2 separate regions of the Homo sapiens genome follow, and region 2 is linked to region 1. The links come from fine-mapping of genetic effects on gene expression. Tissue or cell type: whole blood. Region 1 holds a variant in brackets; the other region holds the start of a gene. All regions are shown on one strand. Distances are from middle to middle.

What was found. PIP is the estimated chance that this variant, and not a neighbour inherited with it, causes the effect.
Region 2: it holds the start of THOC2, and the variant in region 1 is fine-mapped to the expression of THOC2 in whole blood (TOPMed, PIP 0.97).

What each region holds. Positions count from the first base shown.
Region 1 is chrX:123,595,613-123,606,506 of GRCh38, reverse strand. THOC2 (THO complex subunit 2) reads left to right here. Exons shown (of 39, transcript NM_001081550.2): 39 at 5,169-5,938. It also overlaps the pseudogene FERP1. Among named protein-coding and RNA genes, the nearest start is that of THOC2, 130 kb to the left of the region's middle. The variant C/G (reference allele first, on the strand shown) is at 5,137.
Region 2 is chrX:123,728,297-123,737,743 of GRCh38, reverse strand. THOC2 (THO complex subunit 2) reads left to right here and starts at 4,692. Exons shown (of 39, transcript NM_001081550.2): 1 at 4,692-4,792. The coding sequence starts at 4,722. RefSeq lists an enhancer at 4,677-4,756.

The sequences.
Region 1 (10,894 bases):
TTCTCATGCCTCAGTCTCCCGAGTAGCTGGGATTACAGGCATGTGCCACCATGCCTGGCTAATTTTTTTGTATTTTCAGTATAGACGGGGTTTCACCACGTTGGCCAGGCTGGTCTCAAACTCCTGACCTCAAGTGAACCGCCCTCCTTGGCCTCCCAAAATGCTGGGATTACAGGTGTGAGCCACCACGCCCGGCCTGTCTTTCTTTCTTTCTTTCTTTTTTTTTTTTTTTGTAGAGACGAGGTCTCACTATATTGCCCAGGCTGGTATTGAACTCATGGGCTCAAGTAATCCTCCTGCCTCTGCCTCTCAAAGTGGTACGATTACACATGTGAGCCACCACCGCCAGCAAAATGCACCTTCTTAACCTCACACAATATTTCAAAATTTTAAAAATCTGTTTGTTTTTAAAAATCAGAATTGACAAAATCCAAATTTCAGTTTTTCTTGAAGGATTGGAACATCTGGTAACATTGTGTTCTGATTTCTGCATAGCATCATTATGTCCTGATTTCAGCTAGACTTGTCTAGGTGCTGCCCCCCTTTAGAATAGAGCAAGGGCCTTTTTAAAAACAGTTCACCTCCGTCAGTCCCCACTCAGCTCGTTTCTTTTGTTTTCATCACGTTCTTGGCCTTTGTAGACAATTGATTTTGTAATTCCAGCTCTAAGCCTTTTTTTGTTTGTTTGTTTTCCCTTCAGTTCATACTTGGAAACTGACCTCCTAAGCTCCTGAAGATTTCTTGTTTTAGGAATGCATTGCCATTCTGAGGCTTATTCCTAGATGTTGACGATAGGTATTGGTAAAGGGTATGGGATAGGGAACTCATCAATGTTCACATTGATGCCAGAGAAACATTTAATATCTCTGTATAAGTGCAACATTGACTTTTTTTGCCACCAAACACACCATTTTATAGGAAGGGAACCTATACTGATTAAAAGAGCTTGCTTATTTGCTGCAGCATATTTTTTGAGGGCAGATTTAATATGCTCTCATTTTGGTCTGTATGTAGTAACCATTAAATGTATACTAGACTCTTGTAAGGAGCTTGAAATGACAGACACAAATCATTTCTGTCTTCATTATCAACTTTTATACTTAAAAAAAATACTGAGTATAGGTTTTGTGCACTGATATTCATAGGCATGAAAAGTTGAAGAGGGCAGGAGAAATTTTCTATTTCCTTGCTCTTCCACTTACGGTAGAGCAAATATTCATTTATATGCTGTTTTTTAAAATTTTGACATGGGCATGAGCACTTATAAAAGGCTTCCATACAACATTTGCCCTGAGTGTGTCTTTCCCCTACACACATAATTATCCTGAAAAGCATCCCTGGGTGCAGTTAAGTTTCAGCTCAACAGAATCCACGTCTTAACTCTGTTACATTTTATCCACGTGGAACATCTCAGGAACTCTGTTTGCTATAAAGAATTCCTAGGTTGCAGTATAAGGGTAAATGAAGGAGTAAAGTGGATTTAGGATGGCTGTCCCCATGTCTTTCTCATAACTTCTTTCTTCCTTATAAATATTTGTTTGACTTTTTAAATGTCAAGTTCATCTTTATATGCCTTTCTACCTGGGGTTTATGTGAAAAGAACGAGAGAATGAGAATAAAATCCTGACAGTTTCAGACACTAGTAAAAATGCATGGAATGCAGTTCTGGGATGCTTCCTGTGAAGTGAAGACACTTAACCAAAAATAATATATTATTTTGGTGGGCTTGATTTTATAGTTTCTCTTAAAAATTGTTTGGTTGCCATCCAGAGGGCTCTTTTATGAAGAATCTATATAAACTACTAAAACATTTCTTAGGACCTTTTTGGTGAATTTGATCATAAAATTAAAAAGCGTGTATGTGTTTTATAAAGGCATACCTCTGTTAAGAAGGCTGGTTTTATGTTTGCCTTTTCTTCTCTACTTTGATCACCACCCTAGCTGTTCCTTTCTCCAGACCACCTTACTTTTCAAACTTGATTCTTGCTATCACAGCTCTCTGTAACATCAGTTAAAATCAGCTGCCTCAACTCTTTGAGGATGTTTGTGCATAGGACGGCATTGTGAAACATAGGGAAATGGCAGTCTTACTAACAAAACAGGACCTATCTCTGGCCAAAAAGAAAAAAAAAAAACAAACAACTCAGGAGGTCCAGATAATTACCAATATAAAATGGCGTTCACACATATAATCTTGTCTCAGCAGAGTAGGAAGGCCATCTTCTGTTGAGATGTGTCCTACAAATGTGGTATGTGATATTACCAATACAGCTTATAGCACCAATAGGTGTCTGTGATGGAGAACAGCAGACTATGAACTGAGCCTGGAGTAGAAAATTTTTGAGAAGCAGCAACAGTCCTAGATGTGAAAAAGATAGATCTGTGTGATCCCTTACATTCAGAACTTACACTTTCTTATTTACAATGGTTAAAGCAGTACATATTAAAAAATAGTTAATAAAACACTTAGGAGAATGTTGCAGGTAATGTGGTATAAATGTTAATAAGAAGAAAAATACTGCTTTGCTGAAAATAGAGTCCTGAAGGCTGAGTTTGGCACTGCTTCATCACTATGCAACTTTCTTCTTGATGACAGCTAGCTCTTTCTGAAGTTCAGTAAACTTGGGGGCAGTTTTCAAGTTTGTAATCCTAACACCTCAGCATTATTTTATTAAAATACTCTGTGGACACTGCCAAGAGACTGACATCCAGTATCTTCTTTCCACTTGCTCTTGTGGTTGCTGATTTGTCATTCCAGGCTATGGACAGACCCCCTAAGCCGAAAGTCTCCCAGAGGAGGATGCCAAAGCTCCGTGCGTCACTCTCAGAATGATATCTCCCATAATTAAGAGCTTCTGGTGCTGTCCATTTAATGGGAATCTGCTTTAAGTCAGAAGATGAGTACACACCACCATCCTCTTGACGAGACATTCCAAAGTCACTGATTTTCAGAACATTATTTTCACCTCCAGGCAGTTTCTTACAGCAAGGTCCCTGTGTATACATTTTTTACTCGAGATACACCATCCAGAATCAGCATCTAATGAAAATTTCACTGAGTTTTAGTTCATTCTTCTTTCTCTGAAAGGAGAGGAAATCGCCTCCAGGAACCAGTTCCTTAATGACGTAGATAGGCCGTCTTTGTGTGTGAACTCCTATACTTTTGACATTACTGGGATGATTATATTGCTTGAGGATTTTGGCTTCTAGTAAAAATTTTAATTTCAGTTCCTGGGGAAGACGTTCTTGACGTGTTTTAACAGCAACAGCAATTTTATCCTTTAATGTGACCTTAAATGTGTCACCAAAATTTCCCTTGCCTCTTGTAACGTGGCACCTTTATGATTGAGAACCCATTTCTTATTCTCCTAATGGCCATACTGTGATACCATGATGCTCTTAATTGGAACATTGACTTTTTTTTTTTTTGCAATTTAAACAATTGAGATAAAATTCATATAACATCAAATTTACCTTTCACTTTTTTTTTTTTCTTTTGGAGACCAAGTCTCGCTGTTGTCTCCCAGGCTGGAGTGCAGTGGCGCGATCTCGGCTCACTGTGACCTCCGCCTCCTGGGTTCAAGCAATTCTCCTTCCTCAGCCTCCTGAGTAGCTGGGACTACAGGCGTGCACCACCACGCCTGGCTAATTTTTGTATTTTTAGTAGAGATAGGGGTTTCACCGTGTTAGCCAGGATGGTCTCGATCTCCTGACCTGGTGATCCACCTGCCTCGGCCTCCCAAAGTGTTGGGATTATAAGCGTGAGCCATGACGCCTGGCCTCAAACTTGCCATTTTTAAAGTGTACAATTCAATGGTTTTTAGTATATCCACTATGTTGTGCAAGCATCACCGCTGTCTAATTCCAGAGCATTTCTGTCACCCCAAAAAGAAACTCCATGCCTATTAGCAGTCACTCCCAGTTCTTCCCTTCCTCGGCCCCTGGAAACCAGTAATGTACTTTCTGTCTCTGTGATTTTGCCTGTTTTGGACATTTCATTTAAATGGAATTATGCAATAATTTGTGGCCTTTTGTGTTTGGCTTTCACTTAGCATCATGTTCTCAAGGCTCATCCATGTTGTGGCATGTATCAGTACTGCATTCCTTTTTATGGCTAAATGATGTTTCATTGTATGAGTGTGTACCACATTTTATTTATCCATTCAGCAATTAATGGACAGGAACAATGGCTTTTAAGTATTAAATTGTAAGTTCAACATTAAATGTATCCACAGTTATTGATAATATCAAGATTATACATGGTGTGAACAGAATGCTGTGTCGAAATGGTATGTAAATTATTTGTCAGCATTTCATGTAAGTGATTATTTTCTAAGGACCCTTCTAGCCCTGGTTTTAAGAAATATGTGAATGTAGTATTTTCATCAATAAAGTTTAATGCATTAAGCATTAGCTTAAAATTTGAATGAAGGCAGATGTGAAGATATTTGCCACATGTTGTAATAATCATGTTTTGAAATTATTTCAATATGAAGTATTTGAAAAATGTCAATACATAAAGGAAAGGAAATGAGTATAATTAAGTCAATATATTTTTAAAGCAATTTTTATAATTTAGCAGACACTGCATCTTAATATAAGTTACTATTAAAATTGTGTCCTTGTGAAAAATGTGATGTCATTTTCCTTTTTTTGTTGATCATGTAAAATAGGTTACTTTTCTTTGCTACATTTTCTATTTAATAAGCTATTGCTTGCCGTTGTGGAATGTTTTACTTGTTGCTCCATTTTTTTCTCCCTACCCCCACCCCTCTCTCCCACACGCACACAATGTTCAATTTTTTTTTTAAGTCATCATTAGTGTGTTTATCTTTAATGGATTCTAAGAATGGACAAAAAGAAACACACAAATATTTCATCCTTTTCTGGGGACTCAAGTCTTTGTTACCGATGGAACTCATTAACTTCTTGTTCTTTCTTAAATCTTCCTCCCTCCTTACCTTTTCCTCTCCTTCCTTCTCTTCTTCTTCCTTTCTTCTCCCCTCCCTCCCTCCCTCCCTTCTTCCCTCCCTCCTCCTTTCATTCTCCTTCTCTCCTTCTCCCTTCCTTTTCTCCTACCTCCTTTGACTAAGCCTCCCTCCCCTACTCCCTCCTTTCCTTCCTTCCTTCCTTCTT[C/G]TCTATCAATATAATCACTTTGTTTCTTTCAGGTGAGATCGGACTGGAACTGTTCGGCTGCGACCAGAAATTTATTTTCCTGAGTAAATTGCCGAGAATTAAGAATGAAGAGGGCCATTTGCATCTCCTTAAATTATTCAGTTACCTGCTTTATTGCTCCATGTGGAAAACTTAAAATTGTTAAGTTGTGCATTACTGTATTTTAACTTGTTGCTTAGTTTCTACATGTTTATTTTCAGTAATGGCTGAAAGTGTTAACTGTTCCATACTTTTAGCACAATGTGCTGCATAAGGTTACCTGTGTACAGAGTTTTACTTTAGATTAACTAAATATTGCCTGGGTTCAGTTTTTATTTCCATTCTGAAATGCTTCCTTTTTATTGTTTGAAACTGAAAATAAACAATTGTTGAACCCTTTTGATTTTACCTCATTTTAAAACTGTTTTAATTTATTATTTGGCTTGTTCTTAATATTAGTCACTAAAAGCAGTGGGAGCATTGTCTTATGAAATGCTTAGGAATCATTTTATATAGTACATGTACAACATTAAACGTGTTTAAAAAAGAAAAAGGTACCAGCGATCACTTGTCCCTTGCCATTTTTTCTTGTAATTATGTTAGACAAATCTTGGCGGCGGGGGGATCAAAACATAATTGTTTTAATTCTACAGCTGTAGGAGCTTTGTATTGCTGAACTTTCATCTGGAAAAGTTTCACAGTGACATTTTTAAAAGAGAATTTTTTTATCTGCCGAATTCTACCAGTGTAACCTTTTTTCTAAATAAACAATAGTTTTCTCAAATGGTTGTATATTATTGTGTATATTGTTGCTTATTCAGAATAACTTAGCAAAGATAATTCATTAAGGTTCCTAGCCCTTCTCAGTTCTTATTCCATGGGCTACATTATTTTCCAGTGACATATCATCCAATAATAGGAAAATATCCTGTTTGATTACCTCTGTAGTTGGAGTAAACAGTGGACTTGGTAGCATGCCTGGATTTTTCCATTTAGTCTTCAGTTCCTTGGAAACGATACCTATGCAAATTAAAATTTTCAGAGAATGACAAAAAGGATATAACTTTTTAAAGAATTGAGAATTACTGAGCATATTTTAAATGAATTGGCAAAAGGGTATAAATCTTGATGTCTCTTTTCAGGTAATTGTAATTTGCAAAAATCGATGAGCAGAATATTTATGGGAGGGTGATATATTCAGTGACTGTTGAGTGCTTATAATGTGCCTGACATAAAAATAGATGTTTTGTTAGAGTGATTTTTGACTTTGAGAAAATAACTATGGCTTACCTCAAAATTATTTGCCTGAAAGATATCAGGAAGAACTTTCCAGTTGTTAAATATGCATTCATATTTTAAAGGTTACATGATTGTGGTTTTGAACTAGAAAGTTTACTAATTAGATAGCATCAATATGCCTTCTCTGTGTTGCCCCAAATCATCAAACACAGGTAATTAGTTCTGGCCTTACTAGAAATGCATTGATGATGGAAAATACTATCTTTGGATTAACTGTGTAAAAATAATGTATGTTGGAAGTAGGAAATCTGTGTTTGTAAAGTGCTAGCTATTTTAGGGCATCTACTCTGTTCTAGGTCCAAAGAAGTATAAGACCTGTCTCGAGAGTGCTTCCAATCTAGTTTGGAAAAGAAGAACCAAATGAATGCTATGGGGGGCCAGCAAACTTTTTGTAAAGGGCCAGATAGTAAATATTTGTGGCCTTGCAGGCCATGTAGTTCCCATTGCAACTACTAAGCTCTGCCATTGTAGTGTTGATGCAGTTATAAATAATATGTAAGTGAATAAGCATGGCTGAGTTCAGTAAAAGTTTATTTACAAAAACAGGTGGAAGCCTAGATTTGGCCTGCAGGCTGTAGTTTGTCAACCCCTTCTATAAAGAGTAGAGAGTCCTATAGGGTATTCATTAAAAAATATTTGAGGGTGGGAGAGGGGTGAGGGATAAAAGACCACACATTGGGTACAGTGCACACTGCCTGGGTGATGGGTGCACCAAAATCTCAGAAATCACCACTAAAGAACTTATTCATGTAACCAAACACCACTAGTTCCCCAAAAACCTATTGAAATATTTGAGTGCCTCTTATGTATCAGAGGTACAGCCATGAGCAAAACAAACCCCTGCCCTCATGGAACTTCCATTCTAGTCAGTGGAGGCAGACAACAAACAAATAATGTTATTTGGAGGGAGGTCCTCTGAGGAAGAATAAACCTGGATAAGGAGACTGGGGTGAGGCCGAATTTACTGCTGATTACACAGTGACTATGGAGTGAAGATGAGCGAAGCAGGGCATTTTGAGGCAGTTATTACAGTATGAATATTTTATTACCGAATAATCTGTCTGTGATTCCCAACCCATCTTTGAACCTTTTACATAAACATAATATGCAGGATCTCTCTCTCTCTCTCTCTGTTGTTCTAGTGGGTGGCATCTAGGCTTGCCATTTTCTAGAAAGGAGTTCTTGACTAAAGGCTCATGAATGAGCTTGGGGGGTATTTATGGGCCTTCCAGAATCCCAGAAATTGGGTACAAGTTTGTGTTATGTACACTTTTCTGAGTCTATAGCTTTTGCCAGATTCTCAAGAAAATAAGCCTAAGGTGGTAAGTTTGTTTTAATGGGTCTTGTTCCAAAGGTGTTTGAGACCTTTATAACTAACTCTGAATCTTTTTGGGGATGGTGAGAAGGTGGAAGGCAGTTGTCTATCTACCTTGGATTAAATGGTAGGGGCTAAAGTTAGAGCAGCAGCCTTTCTTGCCTTGGCAAATAATCTACAAGTGATTTGCAATTTGTTGGAAAGTAACTGGTCCATGCGGGCCATTTCCTCTTTTAAGGAGGTACTTTAGCCAAGTATGGGCAGACATCCTAGTAGCCTTTTTTTTTTTTTAGGACAATTATGTAATTGATTTATTTCTACCCTACTATGATCCAAAAAGGATTTATGAAAAAAAAAAAAACATAGTACAGTATCTTTAAATGAGAAAATTTGTTTCTGGGTGAAATTAGTAACCTAAATGAAGCTATTGCCCCAAAATGTCATGTACAAGTGGGCCATGGAGAAACTGGCAGGCCACAAAGAGAAGGTAATGTGGTTAGTTATAGGAACTAGTGTCCATCAAATATAAAGCTAGTTGCAGCAGAGAAGAATGTTTCCTGGCACCGAGGCCTGAAAGAAACTTCTTTGCATTCACAAAGCAGTCATGTCTTTTCAGTGGATAAAACAAAGGAATGTGTCTTTTAAATGGTCTTGAGTATTACCCGATGGCCAACACCTTAGTTCATTCTAGTAAGGTTATTTCTACAATGACACCGGAACATGCGGTCCAGGCATGCAGGTCTCTGATGATTTGTTTCAGTCCAGGAAAATATTTTTAAATATTTGGGACAGGGTTTGTAAACTGGGATTTATTATAGCCTTGTTTTTTGTAAGTATGTTTGTAAAGATTAGGAAACTCATGCGACTGTTGTTTGGTTCCCATAATACAAGTAATATGAACAAGACCTCTTTAGTGTAAAAGCTTTGCCTGCCCTTTGTTTCATTTTTATGGATGGTGATCTCTAAGGCTGCCTCTTAGATAGAATGAAGCTTATTATACTGTAACTTCAATATTCTATCTCAATACTTATCAGAAATGTGGTTTAAATGCTTAAGTTTTTGTTTGTTTCTGTTTTTTTTGAAACAGGGTCTCACTGTTGCCCATGCTGGGGTGCAGTGGTGCGATCTTGGCTCACGGCAGCCTCCACCTCACAGGCTCAAGAGATTCTCTTGCCTCAGCTTCCCGAATAGCCTGAATTACAGGCACGTGCCACCACACACGGCTAATTTTTGTATTTTCGGTAGAGACAGGGTTTCACCATGTTGGCCAGGCTGGTCTCGAACTCCTGACCTCAAGTGATCCGCTTATCTTGTAAATGATTAAGTTTTAAAAATTGAAGTAACATTTCTAGAGACACTATCTTTCAGGGCCAAGGAGATTTTATTGGGTCCAGAGTTGAGAATAAAAAGAGGAGCTGCATAAAAGATGGTAATTCATGCTAACTGAACACAGATTTTCTTCTATTTATAGACAGAAGTAGACATAAGAACAACAAAAGGAGGGATATTGGAAGTAGTGATTAAAGGAAGTGTGGCAACCTGAGAAAATAAACCTTAATGTAAAAAATTCTGTTTTTGTTCCTGATTCTTAGGTACTGTTTTAAGCTGTAATGAATGGCCATTTCTAAATGGATCAGGCTTAAAAAGCTTAATTCCTTTGATGTGTTGCTAAATGGATGTGGTTAATAGAGGAAGGAGAGGGAACAGAGATGATTCTGATTGGGCACAGGGCACATAAGCTTGAGAAATACATAATTGCAGATCAGAAATAGCCTTCATTTCATGGATAGGAGCTAGAAAATGACCTGGCACTTAACCTCTAGCTTAGTTGGACCTCTGATTTTTGTTAGATGACAGCTAGATGTCCTTGGGCTCGAGTATCAGACCAATAGACAGCTATTATTACCTCTGTCCTCAAAAAATTTTCTTATATTTTAGCCAGAATGATACTGTACTTTGTTCAAGGCTTTCTTGATCCTAATTTCATGTGGTATGTAATAGTACTTATTTCCTATTACATATATCATCATTATCAAAGAACACTTCTGAATTGTAATTGGATACGCCATTGCTAGGCACTATTAAACAGCATCTTTTCTGCTTTCTGGAATAATTGATCCAAGACATCAGTAAGACAGACAAACATGCTAAGCAAGAAACAATATGTAAAATGAGTAAGGTATCCATACCACATGCAGCTGGGGACCAGGTACATTTTAAGAGGTTGGTGAATACTCGGTAAGAATTACCTCAGACTGAGTGTGATTTGAGAAGTTTTTGTCCACAACAGGTTCGTCTAGGAAAATTTTATAAAGGATTTGGACTCTAAGGAAGCCAATTGCTTTCTCCTTAGACCTAGAAGGTATAGGTCTTTTGGGGTCTCGTTTAACTCTAAGTTGGCACTGGCGGAGAGTGAATGTTGAACTTGGAATTCTGAACAATTCTGGTATTATGCAGAATCTTTGAAGCCAATTTGTTATACCAGCCCAGGAATAGATCAGATTTGAGAGACAAATGCTCTCTACCTCTTTGGGTACTTTTCCTTAACTGCCTCAATATTTTCCCCTTTTTTTGGTCTTAACCCCTGACATCATCAGTCTTTTTATTGCTTTAATCAGTGTTAATTACATTTTTCATGTCTTTACAGGTAATTAAAAAGTTGTCGTCTCTATGTCAAGATGACTTTCCTTGTCCATTTGTATTCCTCTGAGTGGGGATGAACTCCACTGAAACTTCTTACACTGTCTCACTTGATCTTCACAATGCCCTTCTGCTAATGAATTAAATCTAACAATACATGTCAAGCACCTAAAACAGGACCTAGTACCTGGCAGGTACTCAATAACTAGTAGCAGTTGTTGTTATTAGTGGTAGTATTCATACCAGTACTTTCCAAACTGAGAATCATTAGAATGAATTGAGAAACTTTTGGAGGTCCCCACATCAAGTATATTGAATCAGATTTTCTTAGAGTAGGGACCTGGAGTATTTTCTACAAACAGTTCCTCAGGTGATTCCAAAGTAGGGATAATATTTGGGAATTACGGAGTTAAACCAGCACACAATCCCCGCATCTCAGTTCTTAATTTTGGACAAAACTCAGAGACTTCTTATTTCTGGAGGTGA
Region 2 (9,447 bases), 130 kb before region 1:
CGATCTCCTGACCTCGTGATCTGCCCTCCTCGGCCTCCCAAAGTGCTGGGATTACAGGCACGAGCCACCGCACCCGGACTTATTTTTCTTTTAAAGTCTATTTTATCTGATATTTACCTTAATATCAAGAAGAAATTAAAAGACAAAAGAAATTAAGTTACAACAGCTTAATTTTTGTTGATATTAGTATTTGGCTGGTGTATTTGCCCCATCATTTCACTTTCAAACTTCTTGTGTCCCTGTGTTTTAGGGATGTCCCTTAAAAATAGCTAGATTTCAGTGGGGCACAGTGACTCACGCCTGTAATCCCAGCACTTTGGGAGCCCGAGGTGGGCAGATCGTTTTAGCTCAGGAGTTTGAGACCAGTCTGGGCTGCCTCTACAAAAAATACAAAAATTAGCCGGGTGTGGTGGTGAGTGCCTTTAGTCCCAGCTGTTTGGGAGGCTGAAGTGGGAGGAAAAAGAAAAAGAAAAAGAAAAAGAAAAAGAAAAAGAAAAAGAAAAAGAAAAAGAAAAAGAAAAGATCTTGTTTTTACCAAAGGAGCACTGTAGACAGGAAGGAGACAAGTAGATTGGTTTGGCATAAACAGCCTTAGCATAAAATGCAGAAGTTATCAAGTAGCTTATTCTAAAGAACTTTTCTTCATTTTAAATCTCAAAAAACCCTTTGCATTCATTCTTTAATTATTTTGTTATTTTGTCTTGTTTTGCTTTTATGTGCTTCCTTTTTGGTCCCATTATTTGTCTTCACTGAGATGGTAAGTTATAAGATTGCTTGACCTTACAGTAACCTAAAATCAACCTATCATTCCATGCATCAGACTGTCAACATTGAAACTACCCAATCCCTGGCCTCCACCACAGACCTCAGTCCCTGAATAGCACATTGGTATCCATGAGCTTGTGAGATCACCAGGGAAAAATCCCCCCAGCTGCTGAGATAATACCAGATGCTGATAGCAAAGAGCAGGCAAGCCAACAACAAGGATGCAGAAGATTTAATAGCTTTGCAATCTTATAGATCAAAAAGCCAATTAGCTCTGAGTAATTCCTAAAGGAGTCATCATACCATGTAAAAATAGTTCTGCAGTTTCTGGAAGAAGGGAAAACCAGGCCTCAAAGGGCATCATTGCACTCAGGTCATACCACAAGTGTGACATACTGATTACTATGCATACTGCACAGTTCAATGTTTGGAAGAAGAAATCACTGTGATACGTGGCAAGGTAAGCCACAGTACAGGAGAATACTGTAGCTCAGTGGTTCTCAAAAGGGGACTGTTTTGCCCTCCAGGAGACATTTAGCAATGTCTGGAAACGGTTGTAATAACTGGTGTGGGTGTGTGTGTGTGTGTGTGTGTGTGTGTGTGTATGGGGGCTGCTACTGACATCTAGTGAGTCAAGGCCAGAGATGTTGCTAAACATTCTACAATGCAGAGGACCCCTGCCCCCTGGCCCCCATCCCCCCTATCCCCACAAAAAATTATCTGACCCAGGTTGAAAGTCCTTGCTGTAGACTACACAGAGAAGTATACATAAGTAGCAAGATAGTGCTTCTTGTATCACAGAAGCCGTCTTGTAATAATGACTTCAAAGTTTTCCAGGAAGGATGATGGTACATGAAGATTCACTGTATCATTCTGTTTGCTTTGTATACATTTTAAATTGTCCATAATAAGGAAACATGAAAAGATTAGAGGGCACTTCTATATTTGATCCTCCTCAAAACGGCAGAAGGTTTTTACAAGCAGAAATCACTGAAGTTAATAGGTGGATATTTTCTAGTGGGTGGCTTTAGAATTTCAAAGTGAGACAGGACACTAGAAGACTAGATACAGCTGGTGAAAAACAATCATAAACAATGGAGCATTTTCCCAGAACCAGTTCTGAATACAGCACATAACTTAAATAGTTTTTCAATGCAAATGAACCTGGTTCATTTGACAAAACTTGCCATATTTAGAAGATACTAGCTCTAAAGTTCATATGTGGGGTAGGATTTCTTCATTTGGATTGTCTGTATTTTCTGCCAAACGTGTGTTTTTTTTTTTTTTAATTTTTTTATTATACTTTAAGTTATAGGGTACACGTGCACAACGTGCAGGTTTGTTACATATGTATACATGGGCCATGTTGGTGTGTTGCACCCATTAACTCGTCATTTACATTAGGTATATATCCTAATGCTATCGCCCCCCACCCCACAACAGACCCCGGTGTGTGATGTTCCCCTTCCTGTGTCCAAGTGTTCTCATTGTTCAATTCCCACCTATGAATGAGAACATGAGGTGTTTGGTTTTTTGTCCTTGTGATAGTTTGCTGAGAATGATGGTTTCCAGCTTCATCCATGTCCCTACAGAGGACATGAACTCATCATTTTTTATGGCTGCATAGTATTCCATGGTGTATATGTGCCACATTTTCTTTCTTTCTTTTTTTTTTTTTTTCTGTCAAGTCTGCTTTATTTAAGTCAATATTAGACCTGCTGTTCCTAAACAGAAATGCCCTGATGACAGAGGAGTGGGAGGGAAGCAGGCTCATGTGAGGGTGTGGGAAGGCCACTTGGCCCAAAATGTTTGCAAGAAATACACCAGGAAAAGCCTATTTTAATTCTCCTGCATTAGGAACTGCCCTGTGAGATTCCTGCAAAATAATCCTCCAGGCTCAGGACTATTCCTCTTCTCTTGTGCTAGACACATCTCTCTTCTGGAAAGTTTTCCTTCCTTTTTTTTTTTTTTTTTTCTGTTGACTTTTTTTTTTTTTTTTATTGATCATTCTTGGGTGTTTCTCGCAGAGGGGGATTTGGCAGGGTCATAGGACAATAGTGGAGGGAAGGTCAGCAGATAAACAAGTGAACAAAGATCTCTGGTTTTCCTAGGCAGAGGACCCTGCGGCCTTCTGCAGTGTTTGTGTCCCTGGGTACTTGAGACTAGGGAGTGGTAATGACTCTTAACGAGCCTGCCGCCTTCAAGCATCTGTTTAACAAAGCCCATCTTGCACCGCCCTTAATCCATTTAACCCTGAGTGGACACAGCACATGTTTCAGAGAGCGCAGGGTTGGGGGTAAGGTCATAGATCAACAGGATCCCAAGGCAGAAGAATTTTTCTTAGTACAGAACAAAATGAAAAGTCTCCCATGTCTACCTCTTTCTACACAGACACAGCAACCATCCGATTTCTCAATCTTTTCCCCACCTTTCCCCCTTTTCTATTCCACAAAACCGCCATTGTCATCATGGCCCGTTCTCAATGAGCTGTTGGGTACACCTCCCAGACCGGGTGGTGGCCGGGCAGAGGGGCTCCTCACTTCCCAGTAGCGGCGGCCGGGCAGAGGCGCCCGTCACCTCCCGGACGGGGCGGCCGGCCGGGCGGGGGGCCGACCCCCCCACCTCCCTCCCGGACGGGGCGGCCGGCCGGGCGGAGACGCTCTTCACCTCTCAGACGGGGCGGCTGCCGGGCGGAGGGTCTCCTCACTTCTCAGACGGGGCGGCCGGGCAGAGACGCTCTTCACCTCCCAGACGGGGTCGCGGCCGGGCAGAGGCGCTCCTCACATCCCAGACGGGGCGGCGGGGCAGAGGCACTCCCCACATCTCAGACGATGGGCGGCCAGGCAGAGACGCTCCTCACTTCATCCCAGACGATGGGCAGCCGGGCAGAGACGCTCCTCACTTCCTAGACAGGATGGCGGCCGGGCAGAGACGCTCCTCACTTTCCAGACTGGGCAGCCAGGCAGAGGGGCTCCTCACATCCCAGACGATGGGCGGCCAGGCAGAGAGGCTCCTCACTTCCCAGACGGGGTGGCGGCCGGGCAAAGGCTGCAATCTCGGCACTTTGGGAGGCCAAGGCAGGCGGCTGGGAGGTGGAGGTTGCAGCGAGCCGAGATCACGCCACTGCACCCCAGCCTGGGCACCATTGAGCACTGAGTGAACGAGACTCCGTCTGCAATCCCGGCACCTCGGGAGGCCGAGGCTGGCGGATCACTCGCGGTTAGGAGCTGGAGACCAGCCCGGCCAACACAGCGAAACCCCGTCTCCACCAAAAAAATACGAAAAACAGTCAGGCGTGGCGGCGCGCACCTGCAATCGCAGGCACTCGGCAGGCTGAGGCAGGAGAATCAGGCAGGGAGGTTGCAGTGAGCCGAGATGGCAGTACAGTCCAGCTTTGGCTCGGCATCAGAGGGAGACTGTGGAAAGAGAGGGAGAGGGAGACCGTGGGGAGAGGGAGACGGGAGAGGGAGACGGGAGAGGGAGAGGGAGAAGGAGAGGGACCCGATTATTTTCTTTTATCTCAGCAGTCAGCAGGGCGTAATGTAATTTATTTGCTTATATTTATGGCTTTCCCAAAGACTATTATTTCTCTATTCCCAGTGTCTAGCACATATTAGGTGCTTGAAAAATGCGTGTTTGTATTAGTGGTTAGGGGTAGATATTACGGAAGAAGATGAAGTCTACTTGTTGGCCTGTGGATGGCATTTCTCTGTTCTAATGGGAAGTAAGGCCGAAGACTTCGGAGGGCGCAACCCGTGTAGTAACCTCGCAAAGGGGCCCGCGAGTCTCCACGTCGTTGGCTGCCTTGCCTCGGGTTTCCGCTGGGTGGAGAGGAAAGTGGGGCGGGAAATCGAAAAACGAACTCTCAGCTCCCGGCATTCCTCGTGGGCGGTGCTCCCCTTTGACCCTTCGCTCGCGTGCTACACATCCGGGCTTCTGCTACTAGTGAGAGGAAGATGGCGGCCGCGGCTGTGGTGGTTCCCGCAGAGTGGATAAAGAACTGGGAGAAATCAGGGAGAGGCGAATTGTGAGTGTTCGGGCCGGAGGCAGGCGCACTGCCGGGCCGGGCCAGGGCGTCAGCTGCACTCTCACCTGTAGTGGGAGGTTGAGGGGGAAAGATGTACCCCCTCCCCCACCCGGGCGGCGGGCGTGGATGGTCGTCTAGGAGTTTCGAACTCGGGGAGAGGTGCTGTTTACCGCCGCGGACCTCCTTCCTTCCCTGGCCTCCCAGAAATCGCTACTGCCTGCGGTAGCTCGGCTTCCTTTAGCCTCTTAGTAGAACTCTTATTCCGCCCCTGCAGGTCTCCGCGCTCCCTCTTGGTCTCTTTTTGTGTCCCCCTCTTCGCTTGATCTCACTTGGCTCCTTTATCTTTATGGGGCTGAGCCGGGGCAATTCGGACTTTCCATCTCTCTCTGTGCCATTTCTTCACTCTGCACCCGTTGGACTCCGCAGTTTGGAGCTTGGCGCCTCCTCTGCCTGAAGTCCAAGGAGGGCGAACCGTCCCGGATTCCCCTCCCCTCCTCTTCGCCCGCTGCCGCGAAGCCCGGGGCGCCGCGAAGAACCCGGTTTGGCACCTCTCGCCCTCCCGGGGAGCGGTCTCTCGACTGTCCCGGCCTCGCGTAGCGCCGTGGGGAAGTGTGGCAGGGATTGCCGCTTTCCCTGAAGAACCACCGACATTTCTTTGCTCCGTCTTTTCACCTTAGAGCTATTTCGGGTTGGATTCAACTTTCGTCATTAAATGTTCCCTAAACCCCATTTTATCCTGGGACTGCAACTAATTCTGGCAGCTCTCCAAGCTTCTCCAGTACCTAGGATAACGCGTTTCCTTTAGTCGTGAAACTTTCCCCCGTAACACCGAAAACAGTAATTTGCCATACCCCTAGTCTTCTCGCCCCCACGTTAGAGCGCTCCCTCCTCCCCTTCCCCTGGAAGGAGTCGTTTAAGCAGCAAAGCAAACCTCAGATATAAGAACAAATATTAATAACATCTCATTTCCTTCTCTGGGTCGCTTTTAGATGCTAAAGCTCAACCCTGGATGAAATTAACCCTCGTTAGCCATTTTTGTCGTCCTTGCCCACCCCTCTCCATTTCTAGTAGCCAGTTTACCGTGGCTCATGCTAAAGATTCAAATCTTTGTAACTTCGTTACTTGGAACGAAACACGAGGAACGCGTTGCCGGATCCCGCGCTTGTAATAGTGCCAGCCTATGTGGCTTCCTCCCCCGCACCCCCCGCACTGCTGTATGAAGTCTTAACAGTGTGAGCTCTAGAATTCCCTAAATAAGCGGCTGTCTTAGCCACTTAAGTAGCTGAGTGACCTTGGGTAAGTTCCTTAACCACTTGGACTGTTTCCCCTTGAGTAAATTGGGAATAATAAGTACTCTACTCAAAGGATTGTTGTGAAGACTAAATAATGCCTGTAAAGCACTTGGCTTATAGTAAGTGCTCAAGTGATAGCTATTAAAAGTAATATTATTCCAACCTTTAGATATTTAAACTTCTCAGGACAGCTCATGCACTTAAAGTCTGTACCACTCAGGTTAGCAATTAATTGGTCTCTGACTTATTCATGTGTGTTTATTCTTGCACTGTAATGAATTGGGAGGCCTTTGAAATATAGGGACTATGTCTCATATTTCTTTTGGTTTAACACATGCCCCGCCCCCCCAGCCTATGCTTAGAATGCTTATTGGTTTATTAATTGTCAGAGAAGGCTATTTGATAAATCTTCGTTTTTAACTATAATGAACATTTTACAAATCCTCGTATGTGCTAGTTAACAAATAGCTGTCAAGTTTGATAGCTAGTTGACAAATAGCCATCAAGTTTGGGGAAGGCAAGATGGGAAGTTACCCAGCCAGACCATCATCTTCATCGATATTAGGGTAATCCCCCAAAACTGATAAAAGCAGTTCATTGTTTTGTTTACTTTCAAAGCCAGCTCATTTATTTAGGGGCTGTTATGTTTGTAGATTGCTCAGCTTCCTCCTTTCAGCTACTGTTTTTTGACAGTTTTACTTTTTTTTTTCCCCCTTGAGACGGAGTCTCGCTCTGTCGCCCAGGCTGGAGTGCAGTGGCGCGATCTCGGCTCACCGTAACCTCCGCCTCCCACGTTCAAGCGATTCTCCTGTCTCAGCCTCCTGAGTAGCTGGGACTACAGGCGCGTGCTACCACGCCCGGCTAATTTTTTGTATTTTTACTAGACACGGAGTTTCACCGTGTTATCCAGGATGGTCTCCATCTCCTGACCTGGTGATCCGCCCACCTCGGCCTCCCAACAGTTTTACTATTATTGCTGCCACCTTAGCATGAGTGGTATTAGGGCTATAAGGTGAAATTCTGCTTGGCTTCTGACTGGTAATGGTTTGAGAAAAAGTGATGTAGGAGATCGAAATACTTAGATAAAATGGAATTTTAGGTTCACATTATGTATATTTACATAATACATGCTATCTGTCATAGTTCTTATGTTTGAAGAGCTGCTTAAAAACTGTTATTAGAAGCCGAGCGTGGTGGCTCACGCCTGTAATCCCAGCAAATTGGGAGGCCGAGGCGGGTGGATCACCTGAGGTCAGGAGTTCCAGACAAGCCTGACCAACATGGAGAAACCCCATCTCTACTAAAAGTACAAAATTTGCCGAGCGTGGTGGCACATGCCTGTAATCCCAGCTACTCAGGAGGCTGAGGCGGGAGAATCGCTTGAATCTGGGAGGCGGAAGTTGCGGTGAGCGGAGATCGCGCTGTTGCACTCCAGCATGGGTAACAAGAGCGAAACTCTTTAAAAAAAAAAAAAAAACAAAAACCCAAACAAAAACAAACCAAAAACAACAGCAAAAAAACCTGTTATTAGAACTTACGTGTATGTAGTTATTGCATGACTTGTGGAATGTGGATTGAATTATAGTAGATCCAAATCAGTATAGTCAGTTTTATGATTGCATTCTGTTACAGGAAGAGAATTTAAAATTGTGTAACATAATAAGCTATTTTAAATAGTTAAACACATCACCATCCAGTACTTAGTTTCAGTTTATTTGACCTGTTTTCCCTCTATGAAACTTTGTTGCATATAGCATGTCTTTGGAGTTTTTGTGTCTTCCTAAAGATAGGTGTTAGCATTTTCATATTACTAGGCAGAATACGTGGTGGTGCAAATATATTACAAAAAACCTTTTTCCTTTGTCTGAAAACAGCTTCTGAAATATAAAACAGCAACTGGAAATGTTAAAAATGAAGGTAGTGTGCCACCACATTATTAGTGAAGCTATAGATTTGGCGTTTAGAATATGACCAATATTTAAAATTATACCTTGGGTGAATTTTTCCTTTTTAACAAGATAAATTAGCAGATAAGCTTTAACTTGACTGAAAATTATCTTTTTAAAAATAATGTGATATATTTCATGAGGTTGTTAATTCATTTCTTGTCTGTCACTTCTTACCAGCATAAATCTTTTCTGGGGGTGGTAGTCAGCTAGTGTTGAAAGCAACATAAGAGATGTATGGGGCATTTTATAACTTTCAGATAGGGCAAATTCTTAACTGTACGCCATGAAAAACAACTGTCTATTAAATGGAAGGTCTTGACTTTGAAGAATGTTTTATTAGGTAATTAGAGAGAAAAGTAAAACTGTATTTTGCCTATCTGAATGGTCCATCCATCACATATCTAGATATCCCATTATGTTTCCAGAGATACCAATTATGTTTTTAATGCTAAATTATAGAACTCTTAAAGAGTGACCTTTAAAGTGATCTTAAAGAGGGATCAGAAGGGCAAAGGAGGACTACCAAAATGTAATTGTAATTTCCAATAATACTTATATCTAAATGCAAACTCTTCCAAATTCTGAAAGATATGTATTTAATCACTTAATTTTGGAATTAGTTTTAGTTTCTTGATTATTTTATATTGACGTAGAACTTGCCATGATGAAGCTAATAAACTTGCATGTACTGGTAGATCCAGTGTAGAATTCTGTTTTTGGTAGAAATCATTAACACAGTGAACTCAGCATTTCTTTGTTACAGGCAACCTTAATGGAGAATTGATATTCGAAGCTCTTAATCTGAAGATGCTAGCCTCATGTTAATACTTAGTCTAATTTTGAAATACTTACGTTTGTTGAATATCATCTGTTTGTTTGAATAGCTTATTTAGGTATCAATTAGAAAGTTTTGTTAGGTCTTACCTTATTAATGGTAGTTACAATAAAGTTTTAAAATTTAATTGCCAAATGTTTTGATTGTTGTTCTTTTTCTTCTTCTGCTACTACATGATTTTAGACATTCTAGAACTTATTTAAGTATATTTGGTTGTTCAGAACATGCCATCTGATCTGAATTTCTTGGAGGATTCCAGGTAAAGGGATATAATCATTCTAAGAAATTTTAGTCTTGGTGGTTGAGTCTTTTTTCCTCGCAAAGTTGCTCCAAATTCAGCCAAAGCTTTATCTGAAACCTTTTCTTGATGTCTCAGTTTTCATTTAGCATTTAATTTCCCATTTCGACCTGTATTCATAAGCTAAGTATAAGTCTTAGTCTGTTTTCCTGGGAAGAGAAACATTCTTCACAAAATGTTGAAGCAATGTCAGGAGGTTGTATAGGCTACTACTTTGTTTGTTAAAAAAAATTATTCTGTAATGCTCTAACGTTTAGGTAGGGTGAGTGCTGTCAATATAC